4 linked regions of the Homo sapiens genome follow. The protein of the gene in region 1 purifies or fractionates together with the protein of each later gene. This does not show direct contact. Each region holds a gene or a part of one and is shown on either strand. Other genes may lie near its edges.

What was found. Proteins that work in one complex are often made in the same cells at the same time.
Region 2: the proteins of PPP4R3A (region 1) and CPSF2 fractionate together in Homo sapiens (co-fractionation; one large-scale study listed by BioGRID). This does not show direct contact.
Region 3: the proteins of PPP4R3A (region 1) and EHD2 purify together in Homo sapiens (affinity purification with mass spectrometry; one large-scale study listed by BioGRID and IntAct). This does not show direct contact.
Region 4: the proteins of PPP4R3A (region 1) and GDA purify together in Homo sapiens (affinity purification with mass spectrometry; one large-scale study listed by BioGRID and IntAct). This does not show direct contact.

The regions. Positions count from the first base shown.
Region 1 is NC_000014.9:91,503,811-91,507,310, forward strand, and holds part of PPP4R3A (serine/threonine-protein phosphatase 4 regulatory subunit 3A), read right to left. Parts: intron 1-3,500. UniProt on the Homo sapiens protein: Regulatory subunit of serine/threonine-protein phosphatase 4. May regulate the activity of PPP4C at centrosomal microtubule organizing centers.
Region 2 is NC_000014.9:92,166,969-92,169,806, forward strand, and holds part of CPSF2 (cleavage and polyadenylation specificity factor subunit 2), read left to right. Parts: 3' UTR 1-2,838. UniProt on the Homo sapiens protein: Component of the cleavage and polyadenylation specificity factor (CPSF) complex that play a key role in pre-mRNA 3'-end formation, recognizing the AAUAAA signal sequence and interacting with poly(A) polymerase and other factors to bring about cleavage and poly(A) addition.
Region 3 is NC_000019.10:47,726,922-47,730,421, forward strand, and holds part of EHD2 (EH domain-containing protein 2), read left to right. Parts: intron 1-2,002; exon of another isoform or gene 2,003-2,200; intron 2,201-2,491; exon of another isoform or gene 2,492-2,590; intron 2,591-3,500. UniProt on the Homo sapiens protein: ATP- and membrane-binding protein that controls membrane reorganization/tubulation upon ATP hydrolysis. Plays a role in membrane trafficking between the plasma membrane and endosomes. Important for the internalization of GLUT4.
Region 4 is NC_000009.12:72,243,440-72,246,939, forward strand, and holds part of GDA (guanine deaminase), read left to right. Parts: intron 1-1,708; coding exon 1,709-1,839; intron 1,840-3,500. UniProt on the Homo sapiens protein: Catalyzes the hydrolytic deamination of guanine, producing xanthine and ammonia.

The sequences.
Region 1 (3,500 bases):
CTTCAAGTTAACAGACACAGCATACACTGAAAGAATTAAAAATAAAAACAAAATAATCTGAAATGGAAGATGGAACTTTGCAGGTATACGGCTATCATAAAAACTGAGAGAAATAAGGTAATCTATCTTCCTTAAAGAAAAGCATGGGCCAGGTGCGGTGTAATCCCAGCACTTTAGGCGGCCAAGTGGGAAAGATCACTTCACATCTGGAGATCGAGACCATTCTGGGCAATACAGTGAGAACCTTTGAAAAAATTCAAAAATTGGACCAGGCATGGTGGCTCATGCCTGAGCCCAGGAGTTCGAGACCAGCCTGGGCGACAAAGTAAGACCCACCCCCTTCCATCTCTTAAAAAAAAGAAAAAAAAAATTTTTTTTTAATTACCCAGGCACAGTGGTGTGCACCTGTAATCCCAGCTAGGTGGGAAGATCAACTGAGCCCAGAAGTTTGAGGTTACAGTGAGCTATGATCCTGCCACTGCACTACAGCATGGGCAACAGAGCTCTTAAAAATTAAAAAAAAAAAAAAAAGAAAAGAAAAGAAAAGAAAAAGAGCAGGGTGCGGTGGCTCACCTGAGGTCAGGAGTTCGAGATCGGCCTGGCCAACATGGTGAAACCTCGTCTCTACTAAAAACACAGAAATTCACCAGGCGTGGTGGCAGGCACCTGTAATGTCAGCTACTCGTAAGGCTGAGGCGGGAGAATCGCTTGAACCCGGGAAGCGGAGGTTGCAGTGAGCCGAGATTGTGCCATTGCACTCCGGCCTAAGTGACAAGAGCGAAACACTGACTCAAAAAAAAAAAAAGAAAACAAAAAACAAAAGGGACGTGTTCTTACAACCTATTTTGCCAGCAGAAACCTACTGGATAAAGATGCAATCCAAGAAATGGGCCCAGAAGCTTAGTGGGACATCCCTTTTCCTCTAAAGCAAGGTAGGTTGAGTGCCAAGTTACTCGGTTTTGGAAGGGAAGGCATACAGTACTTACCATGACAGATCTGCTCTGTAACATGAAGGCCACAAGTACTTCCATTTAGAAATTCTCTTCTGTGATTTTTAGACGAGCATATAAGCTCCCCTAACAAGAACTGAGCCTACAGTTGAGATAGCATTATTATAGCTTCCCCGTCCACAAATATAGACCCAATAATGAGAGAATTTTAAAACTACCCAGCCTTTCTATACCCATGCTAACACTATATACATTATAAAATTCCCAAACGCTTTGTCATTACTAAGTAGTGTGTACAGTTTAAAATGAATTGCCTGAATTTGAATCCCAACTCATACCATCTTAATAGATGAATGACTTTGGACATGTTGTCATCCTTTCTGAGAGAACTTATTAAAAAAAAGAAACGCGGCCGGGTGTGGTGGCTCACGCCTGTAATCCCAGCACTTTGGGAGGCTGAGGAGGGCGGATCACCTGATGTCAGCAGTTCAAGACCAGCCTGGCCAACATGGTGAAACCGTGTCCCTACTAAAAACACAAAAATTAGCCATGCATGATGGCAGACGCCTGTAATCCCAGGCTTGAGGCTTGAAGCATGAGAATCCCTTGAACCTGGAAGGTGGAGGTTGCAGTGAGCCAAGATGATGCTACTGCACTCCAGCCAGGATGACAGAGATTCTGCCTAAAAAAAAAAAAAAAACACACACCATTTATTTCACAGGTATGCAAAAGCCCCTATCACACTATCTCTAGCACTGACCACCAAATTAGCTGATAGCCTATTTCTAAGGTGGATGATTAACACATCACAAAAACTTAATTTTACAGACAATAAATACTTGAAAAGTGTTAAGAATCAAATATTTATTTTGTTCTAAAGAAATAATCTGAAAATCAAAAGTTTTTTTGGGGAAAAGCTACAAGTAATTTAGAAAAGAAAAACTTCAACACAATAATGACTAGGTCTAGCCCAAGTATGGAAAAGCGCAATAATTTTAAGTTTCTATTGGACAAATGACTCAATTTATGGAAAATCAGAAATACTTTCCATTTTGCTCATGACAACAAAAAGAAAATATCAATTATCCTATGATGGAGAATGGAGCAAGCACACAATAATGGCTGACCCCAACTGGCAGTCAACACAAAAACATCCATGTAAAGCTTGTAGATAAACTATAATTGAAATTTTTTTTTTTTTTGAGACGGAGTCTCGCTTTGTCACCCAGACTGGAGTGCAGTGGTGCTGATCTTGGCTCACTGCAAGCTCCGCCTCCTGTGTTCACACCATTCTCCTGCCTCAGCCTCCTGAGCAGCTGGGACTACAGGCGCCCGCCACCACACCTGGCTACATTTTTGTATGTTTTTAGTAGAGACAGGGTTTCACCATATTAGCCAGGATGGTCTCGATCTCCTGACCTTGTGATCTGCCCGCCTTGGCCTCCCTAAGTGATGGGATTACAGGCATGAGCCATTGTGCCCGGCCGAAAATATCTTTAGGCTAAAAGTAATTTTCATTTTCTTTGAAATAAACCTTCAGGCTAATAAAGCAGCAAATGCAAGTAGACAGTAACATGGGAGTTTAATATGGTTAATAGCACTAAATCAGACACTGTTGTAAGAATTACGTAAGTCAATATAAGTAAACTGCTAAAAGAGTTTGGCACATAGTAGGTAGTCAGTAAATTTTGACTTATTATCCCTATTTAGATGTGACAAGAAATGTTAATCATCGACTAAAGATTACTGACAGTATTTCACAAGTATCCTGGAATTTTTTCTAAGTCCATGGTGTGTGTGTATGTGTGTTTGTGTGTGACAGGGTCTCCCTCTGTCACCCAGTGCAGTGGCATGATCACAGCTCACTGCAGCCTCCACCTCCTAGGCTCAAGTGACCCTCCCACCTCAGCCTCCAGAGCAGATAGGACTACAGGCCCGTGCCACCGCACCAGCTAATGTTTGTATGTTTTGTAGAGATGGGGTTTCGCCATGTTGCCCAGGCTGGTCTTGAACTCCCGAGCCCACACAATCCGTCGGCCTGGGCATCCCAAAATGCTGGGATTATAGGCGTGAGCCACCGCACCCAGCCTAAGTCCATTCTTTGCATTCAGTTTTCCTTACAGCCTAAATTTACAAGGGCACATCAGTAATTTAGTTAAGCTCTCCCTGCTAGATAAAAATTAAAGTCATTTTGTTTTAGTCATTTAACCTCCAACCTGCAAAATGGAGGAAGAGAGATTTGTGGCTATTTCCAAAATGGTAAAAATATAAATGGAGGTTCGGCGCAGTGGCTCACGCCTGTAATCCTAGCACTTTGGGAGGCCGAGGCGGGTGGATCACCTGAGGTACAGAGTTCGAGACCAGACTGGCCAAAATGTTGAAACCCCGTCTCTACTAAAAATACAAAAAAATTAGCCAGGCATAGTGGCACATGCCCATAGTCCCAGCTACTAAGGAGGCTGAGGTAGGAGAATTGCTTGAACTCAGGAGATGGAGGTTGCAGTGAGCCACGATGGTGCCATTGCACTCCAGCCTGGGAGACAAGAGCAA
Region 2 (2,838 bases), 660 kb from region 1:
CATTTTCATGTGAGTTTAGATTCTGCTTATCGATTTCTTTTTTTTCTTTTTTTTTTTTTTTGAGATAGCATCTTGCTTTGTCACCCAGGCTGGAGTGCTATGGCTCAATCTCAGCTCACTGCAACCTCCGCCTCCTGGGTTCGAGAGATTCTCCTGCCTCAGCCTCCAGAGTAGTTAGGACTACAGGCGCGTGCCACCATGCCAGGCTAATTTTTGTATTTTTAATAGAGATGAGGTTTCATCATGCTGACCAGGCTGGTCTCGAACTCCTGACATCAAGTAACCCGGCTGCCTCAGCCTCCCAAAGTGCTGGGATTACAGTCGTGAGCCACCATACTCAGCCTAAGATTCAGCTTACCAATTTCTGCAAAAAAGCCCACTCATTTTTAATAGGAGGTAAAAAGCAGTTGACATTTATAACTTAGAGTCTTTTAATGTTAGTGCTGAAAGGGACTAGAGAGCTCATCTAATTCAACCCACTTATTTTAGTATTGAATGAATGACCCTGTACAAGGAAAGGGATTTGCTTGAGATCCACACAGCTGTTTAAAGGCAGAGTTGGGATTGGAACCAAGTCTTAGAGAATCCATTGTTGCTTCTACACTGCATTATTGCTTTGGTTCCCTAGTGTACATTCACTTTGCTTAGGAGTGATATGTTCAGTTTATCTTCTCTAAGAATGGCAGCTGTTATTTAGGACAGTGGCATGCTGAGAAATAGATTGATTTCTATTCTATACTGTGTCCAGTAAAGGTCGGGGGAGAAAGAGTAAATCTTATCTTCTTCTGTACTTTTCTTTGATTAATGTAAGAGTCTAGAGTTTTATCAGAAGATTATTGTCCTTTAAAATATTGATGGACTGATTATCACTTAAAGGGTATAAACAGTGGGTAGTAATTCAGTGATTGAGAGGTTAATTGCAGGTTTTTTTTTTTTTTTTTTCTGGTAACCATAGAATGAATGTAGAATGAATTTGGATTCAATAATGGGAACTAAGGTCAGGCGTGGTGGCTCACACCTGTAATCCCAGCACTTTGGGAGGCCGAGGCGGGTGGATCATCTGAGGTCAGGAGTTCCAGACCAGCCTGGCCAACATGGTGAAACCTCATCTCTACTAAAATTACGAAAAATTAGTCAGGTGTGGTGACGGGTGCCTATAATCCCAGCTACTTGGGAGGCTGAGGCAGTAGAATCGCTTGAACCCGGGATGCGGAAGTTGCAGTGAGCCAAGATCACGCCACTGTACTCCATCTTGGGCGACAGAGCGCAACTCTGTCTCCAAAAAAAAAAAAAAAAAAGGGCAGGGGGAGCGGCTAGAGAAGGAACATTCAAATCTTCCCACGTGGGCAAGTTCCAAGCAAATGTTTATTTTTTTACCTCCTCTTTGGTTTTTGTCTCACTTGAAGCACTTTGTGTTTATGGGAAAATACCAAAAATTACCAAAATTTAAAAACCCAGGGCTTTGCTGGAAGTGAGGGTATCTTCTTGGCTTTTCCCTTTTCCTCCCCACCACTATACGCACATGCACACACAGCTCTATTTTTTGGTGCTTTTCGTTCATTATTCACTCCATTTCATTTTAGCTCTTGAAGTCAAAATGGGATTCCAAAGAGCAAAATAGAAGTTTGGAGAGTTTGAAATCTCTCCTCGTGGCTGGACGCCGTGGCTCACACCTGTGATCCCAGCACTTTGGGAGGCCAAGGCAGGCATACTGCTTGAACTCAGGAGTTCAAGACCAGCCTGGGGAACATGGTAAAACCCTGTCTCTACAAAAAATAGAAAAATTAGCTGGGCATGGTGGCTGTAGTCCCAGCTATTTGGGAGGCTGAGGTGGGAGGATCACTTGAGCCTGGGGAGGTTGAGACTGCACTGAGTCTTGAATGAATGAATCCATCTCTCTTTCTCTCTCCATATAGTCAAAGAGAACCAAAAATGTATGTGCTTTTTTTGTGAAATTGTTAAGGATTCCATGATCCTACTAAAATTTTTGATAATGATAATTTCAAGTGGAGAATATATAAAGGACTCGTGAGGCCTTCCTACCTCATTTTCTGAGGTTATGTTGACTTTAATATCCAATGTATCATAGGTGTTTTCTTTTTTCTCTGACAATTGTTATGTTAAAAACAAAAAGAAGCACATACTGTACAGTCAAAACTATCAGACGTAACTCTGTGGGAAACTTTATTCCAAGGGTGCTGCCACTGCCCTTGTTTTAAATATTTTTGGAACTTCATTTCTCTTCAGGTCTATTTAATAAGCTTGTTAGGAATATTGTAAATTATTTTAGAAACACATTGTGGTCTCAGCCTCATGTGGCATTGCCACTTGTTACTACATGACCCCCCCACACCCCCTAAAAAAGAAAAAGGACTTTAAAAACCCTCTCAGGACAAACATTTGCTACCGTGGTTGATTTTTTAATTTTACATTAACTATTTAATATCAGACTATAACTAAAATACAAGTAGTGGAATTATACTTTTATAAAGTATCAAATTATGTAGATGATGACGAAGTTATAAGGTTACTATAATTTCCAACTTCACCCATAGGTCATGGTATAGTTGAAATTTCATATTTAAATATCAAAACATAAATGTCTAAAGAGATTGTGTAAATTCTTTATCAGTTATAAGGAAAAACCAAATTCAAATTCTTAAGGTTTTTCTTATATGTGATTTTTTTTTTTTTTTTTTTTTTGAGACAAACTTGCAGGGAGAGAATTATGTGGCATGAGGAGGATTGAGAATGTTGTTCATTTTATCTAATTACTGCCTATTAAGAAAAGCTTCACATTTATTTCAGCTATTCTATTGAATACTTTTACCTAAGATA
Region 3 (3,500 bases), on another chromosome or scaffold:
CCCCTTTTGGCCTCCCAAAGTGCTGGGATTGCAGGCATGAGTATGTTGAATTTTTGAACTTCCTATAAAATATAGACAGACAAATACTCATTATTCTACCCTCTTTATTTTTTGATAATTTATAAGATTGTGGTTCAAAGGTTTCCAAGTTCATTGGTTTATTCCACAAATATTTCTTTTTCTTCTTCTTTTCTTTTTTTGAGACGGAGTTTTGCTCTTATTGCCCAGGCTGGAGTGCAATGGCGTGATCTCGGCTCACCACAACCTCCGCCTCCTGAATTCAAGCGATTCTCCTGCCTCAGCCTCCCGAGTAGCTGGGATTACAGGCATTCACCACCATGCCCGGCTAATTGTGTATTTTTAGTAGAGTATTTTTAGTTGGTCAGGCTGGTCTTGAACTCTCAACCTCAGGTGATCCGCTCTCCTTGGCCTCCCAAAGTGCTGGGATTATAGGCGTGAGCCACCGCGCCAGGCCCACAAGTATTTCTGGAATGCTTTCTGTACACATGGTGCTGGGGCTGGGGATGGAGGGAACAGACAAGGTTCCAGCCCTCCTGGGGCTCATCTTTTTTTAAATTTAATTAATTAATTTATTTATAAGCTAGTCAAATTTAGCAGTGGGGGTGGGGAGTTGCATGCCAACTTTACTGACACTAATAAGTTCTGATAACCAAGGCCAGGTGCGGTGGCTCACGCCTGTAATCCCAACACTTTTGGAGGATTGCTTGAGCCCAGGCATTGAAGACCAGCTTGGGCAACATAGTGAGACACCATTTCTATTAAAAAAAAAAAAAAAAGTTCTGATAACCCACTACCATTGGACCAGCCCCGGGGCTTATCTTTTGATGGAGGGAGACAGAATAAGTAAACAGACATAAAATAACAATGAAGGCTGGGTGCGGTGGCTCACGCCTGTAATCCCAACACTTTGGGAGGCCGAGGGGGGAGCAGATCACTTGAGGTCAGGAGTTCGAGACCAGCCTGGTCAAGATGGTGAAACTGCGTCTCTACTAAAAATACAAAAATTAGCCAGGTGTGGTGGCGGGCACCTGTAATCCCAGCTACTTGGGAGGCTGAGGCATGAGAATCACTTGAACCCGGGAGGCAGAGGTTGCAGTGAGCTGAGATTGTACCACTGCACTCCAGCCTAGGCGACAGAACGAGACTCTGTCTCAAAATAAAAAAAAAAAAAAAGATGAATTTATTACATCTTAGGCGCTTCACAGCACCCGTCTCCCATGACTCTTGTTTGATTGTGGCCACAGATTGTCCCCTTCTCTCACTCCTTTCCTCTGTCCTCATCTCCCATTCCCTTCCCAGCGTCCCCTGCACTTCACGCTGGTGGCCTCAGTCCTGTGCACTTGCTGCTCCCTCTTCCTGGAAACCTCTTCTGCCTTCTTCCCCCTCCCACCTGGCCATCCACAAGGCTCACTCCCTCCTCACCCCTTTCAAGACTCTGCTCAAATGCTCCCTTCTCAGGAAGGCTGTCCATGCCCTCCTTTGAATGAATATAACTTCCCCCATATGCGTCCTTCTTTACCCTAACCCTGTTGTCCTTTCCTTTCCTTTCTTCTCCTCTCCTCTCCTTTCTCTCTTTCTCTGTTTCTCTTTCTCTCTTTCTTTCTCTTTCTCTTTCTTTTTCTTTCTTTCTTTTTTTTTTTTTTTGAGACAGGGTCTCCCTCTGTTGCCCAGGCTGGAGTGCAGTGGTGCGATATCAGCTCACTGCAACCTCCACCTCCCGGGTTCAAGCGATTCTCCTGCCTCAGCCTCCTGAGTAGCTGGGGTTACAGGCGTGTGCCACCACACCCAGCTAATTTTTTGTATTTTTAGTGGAGACGGGGTTTCACCATATTGGTCAGGCTGGTCTCGAACTCCCGACCTCAGGTGATCCGCCCGCCTTGGCCTCCCAAAGTGCTGGGATTACAGGCGTAAGCCACCACACCCAGCCAATCAGGGCTCTTTGAATTCCTTCACTGATTTATCCCCAGTGCCCGGAACAGAATTGGTGCTCTGTAAATATTTATTGAATGAATGACATTGAACAAACAGTTGCATTGAACAAAATCTCCTCTATGCCTGGCCTGGTGTTGGGTGGTGCAGGAGACACAACAGTGACCACGATGGTTCCAGTCCTGTCCTGCTGGGGCTCCCAGTCCTAAATAATGAAGGCAGTTCCAGGGCTCAGTCCTCACTGGGGCTCCTGGAGAGGAGACAGATCCATCCCCAGGCACCGATGACCCAGTGTGGTCAGAGCTGGGGCGGGGTAGCTGGGGCAGGCAGAGAGGGCTTCTTTGGAGGAGAGGGCATCTGAGGGGAAATGTCAGTGTTGAACCCAGTGTAGACAGTGTGCTAACTCAATTAGAGGCTGAGGATGTGGCTGAGATCAGAGGTGGTGTGGGCTGTGTCCGGGAATCTGTGCTTTGTCCCTAGGGCACTGGGGAGCCATGAAAAAGTTCGGAGCAGGGAAAGGAGATAATTAGACTCAAGCTACCTTTTGGAGGGTGGATTCAAGGCAGGAGAGTCTAGGAGCCTGGAGACCAGGCAAAAGGCTTGGAGGTTCCTGGATCAGGACAGGCCTTGGGGAGGGAGAGGAGAAAGGAGAGCGCGGGTTTCAGAGCGATTTTGGATGTCAGATGGAACTTTCTCAGGGGGAGGCTGCCAGGGTGGAGGCGGGGCAGGAAGCTGGGCAGGCAGGGAGGCCAAGAAGGTTCTAGGGGGTGGAGGAGCCTGAGGTGTTGGTTTAAGGAGCAGCGAGAGTGGGTGAGTCAGAGCCCCCACCCCCACCCCAGGAATCCTCCTTCGGAGGGAGCGGCCCACTGTGGACCAGGCTGCCACTCCTGGAACCTTCGGAATTCACCTTGCGCTCCTCTGCCCAGGCGGCTCTGCAGTGTCTCTCTCTCTCTTTTTCTGTCTCTATGTCAGTCTCCTTTCTACCTCTCTCTCAGTCTCTTTCTTCTCCATTTTTACTTTTTCTTTTATTCTAACTCCCTTTCCTTTTCTTTCTCGCTCTGCCTCCTCCTGTCTCTCCATCTCTCCCCCGCTCCGCCGCCGCCCTCTCTCTGTCTTCCTCCTGGTCTTGCTTAGACTCCCCCAGGTTCGTTCCCGCGGGTCCCTTGGCGGGAGCTGGAGCACAAGGCCCAGGGACAGAGGGGTGGGTCCGGGCCAGACACCTGGTGCCCCCGCCGGGCTGGGGGCGGCTCCGGAAACCCAGACAAACCCCGGAGTCAGGGACCCAGCCCCGGCCCAGCCCGCCCTCTCACCTTATCTCTTCCTGGCACCTTCCCCTGCTTCCTCTCTGGAAAAGCCATCAGCGCCCTCCCGCCTACCCTCCTTTGGTCCCTACGGAGCCGCCCTTCGGCCCTGCCCCCTGGCTCCATTGGCCCGCTCTCACAGGCCCCGCCCCCAGCCCGGCCACACCCCTGCCCTGATTGGTCCTTCAGACCATTAGGCACTCCCTCCCCCTCTTCCTGCAGGTTCATCCATGGCTCCCCAGTGCCGTT
Region 4 (3,500 bases), on another chromosome or scaffold:
AGTTTAATTCAGTTGAATTCAGTCATTAAAAACTCATACTTGACATGTTTCTTTGTCAAGGGCAAAAAGAAGTCAAGTAATCAGTGAAGGAGGAGAGAATTTCCAGTGATTTTCTGTTACATTCAGTCCTTTCCCATACAATTAGTAGAAGTCACCTGGCTCCTTTTAACATTTTGGATTATTTTCATACCCCTGTCTTGCTAAAGAGAGTACTTTAGCTAAAAAGCCATTTTTCTTTTCTGAGAATAAAAGAGTTGCCCTTTAAAGAATCTTTTAAGAACAAGTAAGATTTCTGAGTCAGTGTTTAGAGAAATGCCACAACTTCTGGATACCTATAGGTAGAAATATAATGTATTAGATATTGCCTAACAAAGGTAGTCGATTCAATATTTTCACATGAAACTTTATCTTAGCGGTGATAGAATGCAACAAATACATGTGAAAATTGAAATAAGGCTGAGCACAGTGGCTCACGCCTGTAATCCCAGCACTTTGGGAGTCCGAGGTGGGCAGTTCGCGAGGTTAGGAGATCGAGACCATCCTGGCTAACACGGTGAAACCCCATCTCTACTAAAAATACACAAAAAATTAGCCGGGCGTGGTGGTGGGTGCCTGTAGTCCTAGCTACTCGGGAGGCTGAGGCAGGAGAATGGTGTGAACCCAGGAGGCACAGCTTGCAGTGAGCTGAAATTGCGCCACTGCACTCCAGCCTAGGCGACAGAGCAAGACTCCGTCTCAAAAAAAAAAAAAAGAAAGAAAGAAAATTGAAATAAATAATACTGCACTCCAGTTAACCTTCCATGCTTCCATTTGTGACCCCAGTTTACACCTTCCTCAGATTACAGGCTTTAAGGAACTTTAGAGCCAATACCTCTGTTGGCGAAGAAAGCCAACTACCCCCATCTTTCTGAAACTAAATCATAATAATGAGAGATGTTCTTCCTTGATATCCAATAATCTTGGAACATGAATTGTAGCTATGAGATGAGCCAAGTCAATAGATATTATTGGCCTGTGCTCTATTTTAGAAGACCATTCTTCTCTGGTGACCAGAAAACCTTTGAGGTTGCAAAGAGATTGGTCTGTTTTCAAAAGCATTGAGACTTTTGAGTTATGAGAATCTGTTCATTTTGAGAAGTGAGGTTTTTTTTCCATTCAAAGGATTTAAACTAAGGAATTTCTGATGGATATGCCTGCATTGACAAATATGCAAAAGGATAATTATTTTTTATTTATTCAAGGTTCATTTCACTGCCATGAAAATAAATCTTGTCAGCTATTTCATGGAACAGAAAGAACAAAAAAAAGCAAGGCAAGGAGTTGGAGTGTTGGGGGAGAATAGAAGGGAAAAAGAATAAAGGTATTATGTTAATCATCATGTTGCTTAGAGGGATAAATGAAAAGCATAGACCAGCTGGGCTATGAAGTGCACTGATAGAGCTGAAATAGAGACATACCAGAGTTATGATACAGTAATGAAGGGAATTGTTTTCATTCTCAGATTTTGCTTTCCTGTGCTTACTCCACTTTATGTAAGTAGAAGTCTTGTGACCTGTTAGAATGAGAGTGATTTTCTGTCTCACTGTTAAGATACTAATTTTTTTTTTTCTCCTAGCGACATGTTGGCAAAATCTGTCCTTACAAACTGAGACATTAGTGTGGTCTGATGGCTTGCAATCCTGACTGTTTATTCACTTGTTCTCAATAGCCCTGGGGCTGGATGGTGAGATTGGAAACTTTGAAGTGGGCAAGGAATTTGATGCCATCCTGATCAACCCCAAAGCATCCGACTCTCCCATTGACCTGTTTTATGGGGACTTTTTTGGTGATATTTCTGAGGTAAGTAAAAGAAAGTTAATCAAAAGGCATTTATTTCATAAAGTCGTCATAATAGCTTCCCTGTAGAAAAGAAAATAGAAACCGAAACTTTTTAATGGAATGCAGGAAAATCTTAAAATGGACGCTAGAGCCCTTTGATAATTATTATAATTTTATGACAGCAATGTTAAGAATAATGGTGTTAACAAAACTTTTATATTTTGAATGTGTTTGTGTATTTGAATGTATTTGGCTACAAACAGCCATAATGTAACTAGCACTCATTGAACACTTGCTATGTGCTGGGTAGGCATGGGATTAGGCACTTCCATACCTAATTTTGTTCGATCATCAGAGCAACTCTAAGAGAGTAGGTACTATTAATATTGCCATGTTAATTTATAGGGGCAGTGAGGCTTAAGGAAGGCTAAGTGATTTACGTAAAGACTCATAGCCAGTGATTAGTAGGTAGAGTTTGGATTCACACCTGGGACTTTCTGACTACGAGAGGCGAGGCTCTTGAGCACTATGCTATGTCAATGTTTTTAATTTTATAAGAAAATGAACTTTGTTTCTCTTATTATAAAATGTTTTTCTATGGATAAAATAAACTAGTTCATCTTACCTGAAAAATAATTCCTTGTAAGATATTGAGTTCTTCCTAAAAAAAGAATTAAGTATTGCCATTTCTAAATTGATCTACTTGTGAGAGTAATTGCGATAATAAATATGTTAAAGATTTTAAAAGAAAAATTCTGTATTATATGAAGTTTGTACCATTTGTTATTATAAAAGAGGAAAAATATATTTTTCTCTACCCATCTTAGGGTCAAGGCTGAGGTCACTATAACAAGAGACAGATTTAACAGGAGAAAGGCATACACATTTATTTAATATAAATTTTTTTGAGACGGAGTTTTGCTCTTGTCGCCCAGGCTGGAGTGCAATGGCATGATCTCAGCTCACTGCAACCACTGCCTCCTGGGTTCAAGCAGCTCTCCTGTCTCAGCCTCCCAGGTAGCTGGGATTACAGGCGCCCACCACCACACCCACCTAATTTTTGTATTTTTGGTAGAGACAGGGTTTCACCATGTTGGCCAAGCTGGTCTTGAACTCCTGACCTCAGGTAATCCACCTGCCTTGGCCTCCCAAAGTGTTGGGATTATAGGCGTGAGCCACTGTACCCGGCCTATTTAATATAAATTTTATGTGACATAGGTGCCTTCATAAGGAAGTGAAGAACCCAAGAAACAGGTAAACTTGGATATTTTTATGCTAGGTTTGATGAAGAGTGGAAAGTTGTAGAGAAATATGATAGGACAAAGAGTGTGGTCCAGTGGTAATAAGCTAGAGAGAACTTAGCAAGGCCTGCTTGTTCAGATTCTTCTCTGTGATCCTTTAGCTTCAGAGATCAGGTATAGGGAGGGCACCCCTTACGTGATGGTCTTATGACCTGCATTGGGGTAAGGGGTAAGGGGAGGGTCAGAGTGACCTTCCTGTGTTTGATTTGAGGGTAGCGTGTCCTGACCCCCTCATTATTTTCATATTGCTTATTCTTTTACTCTCTGATTAGAGTAAATTTCTAAGAATAGGGCTCTAGGGAATAGTCCTAGTGATTTTTCTTATATCAGGGGTGTCCAAGGGAGTTCTTAGTTTCTGTTTCAGGTTGTGCCAGTAAAGCC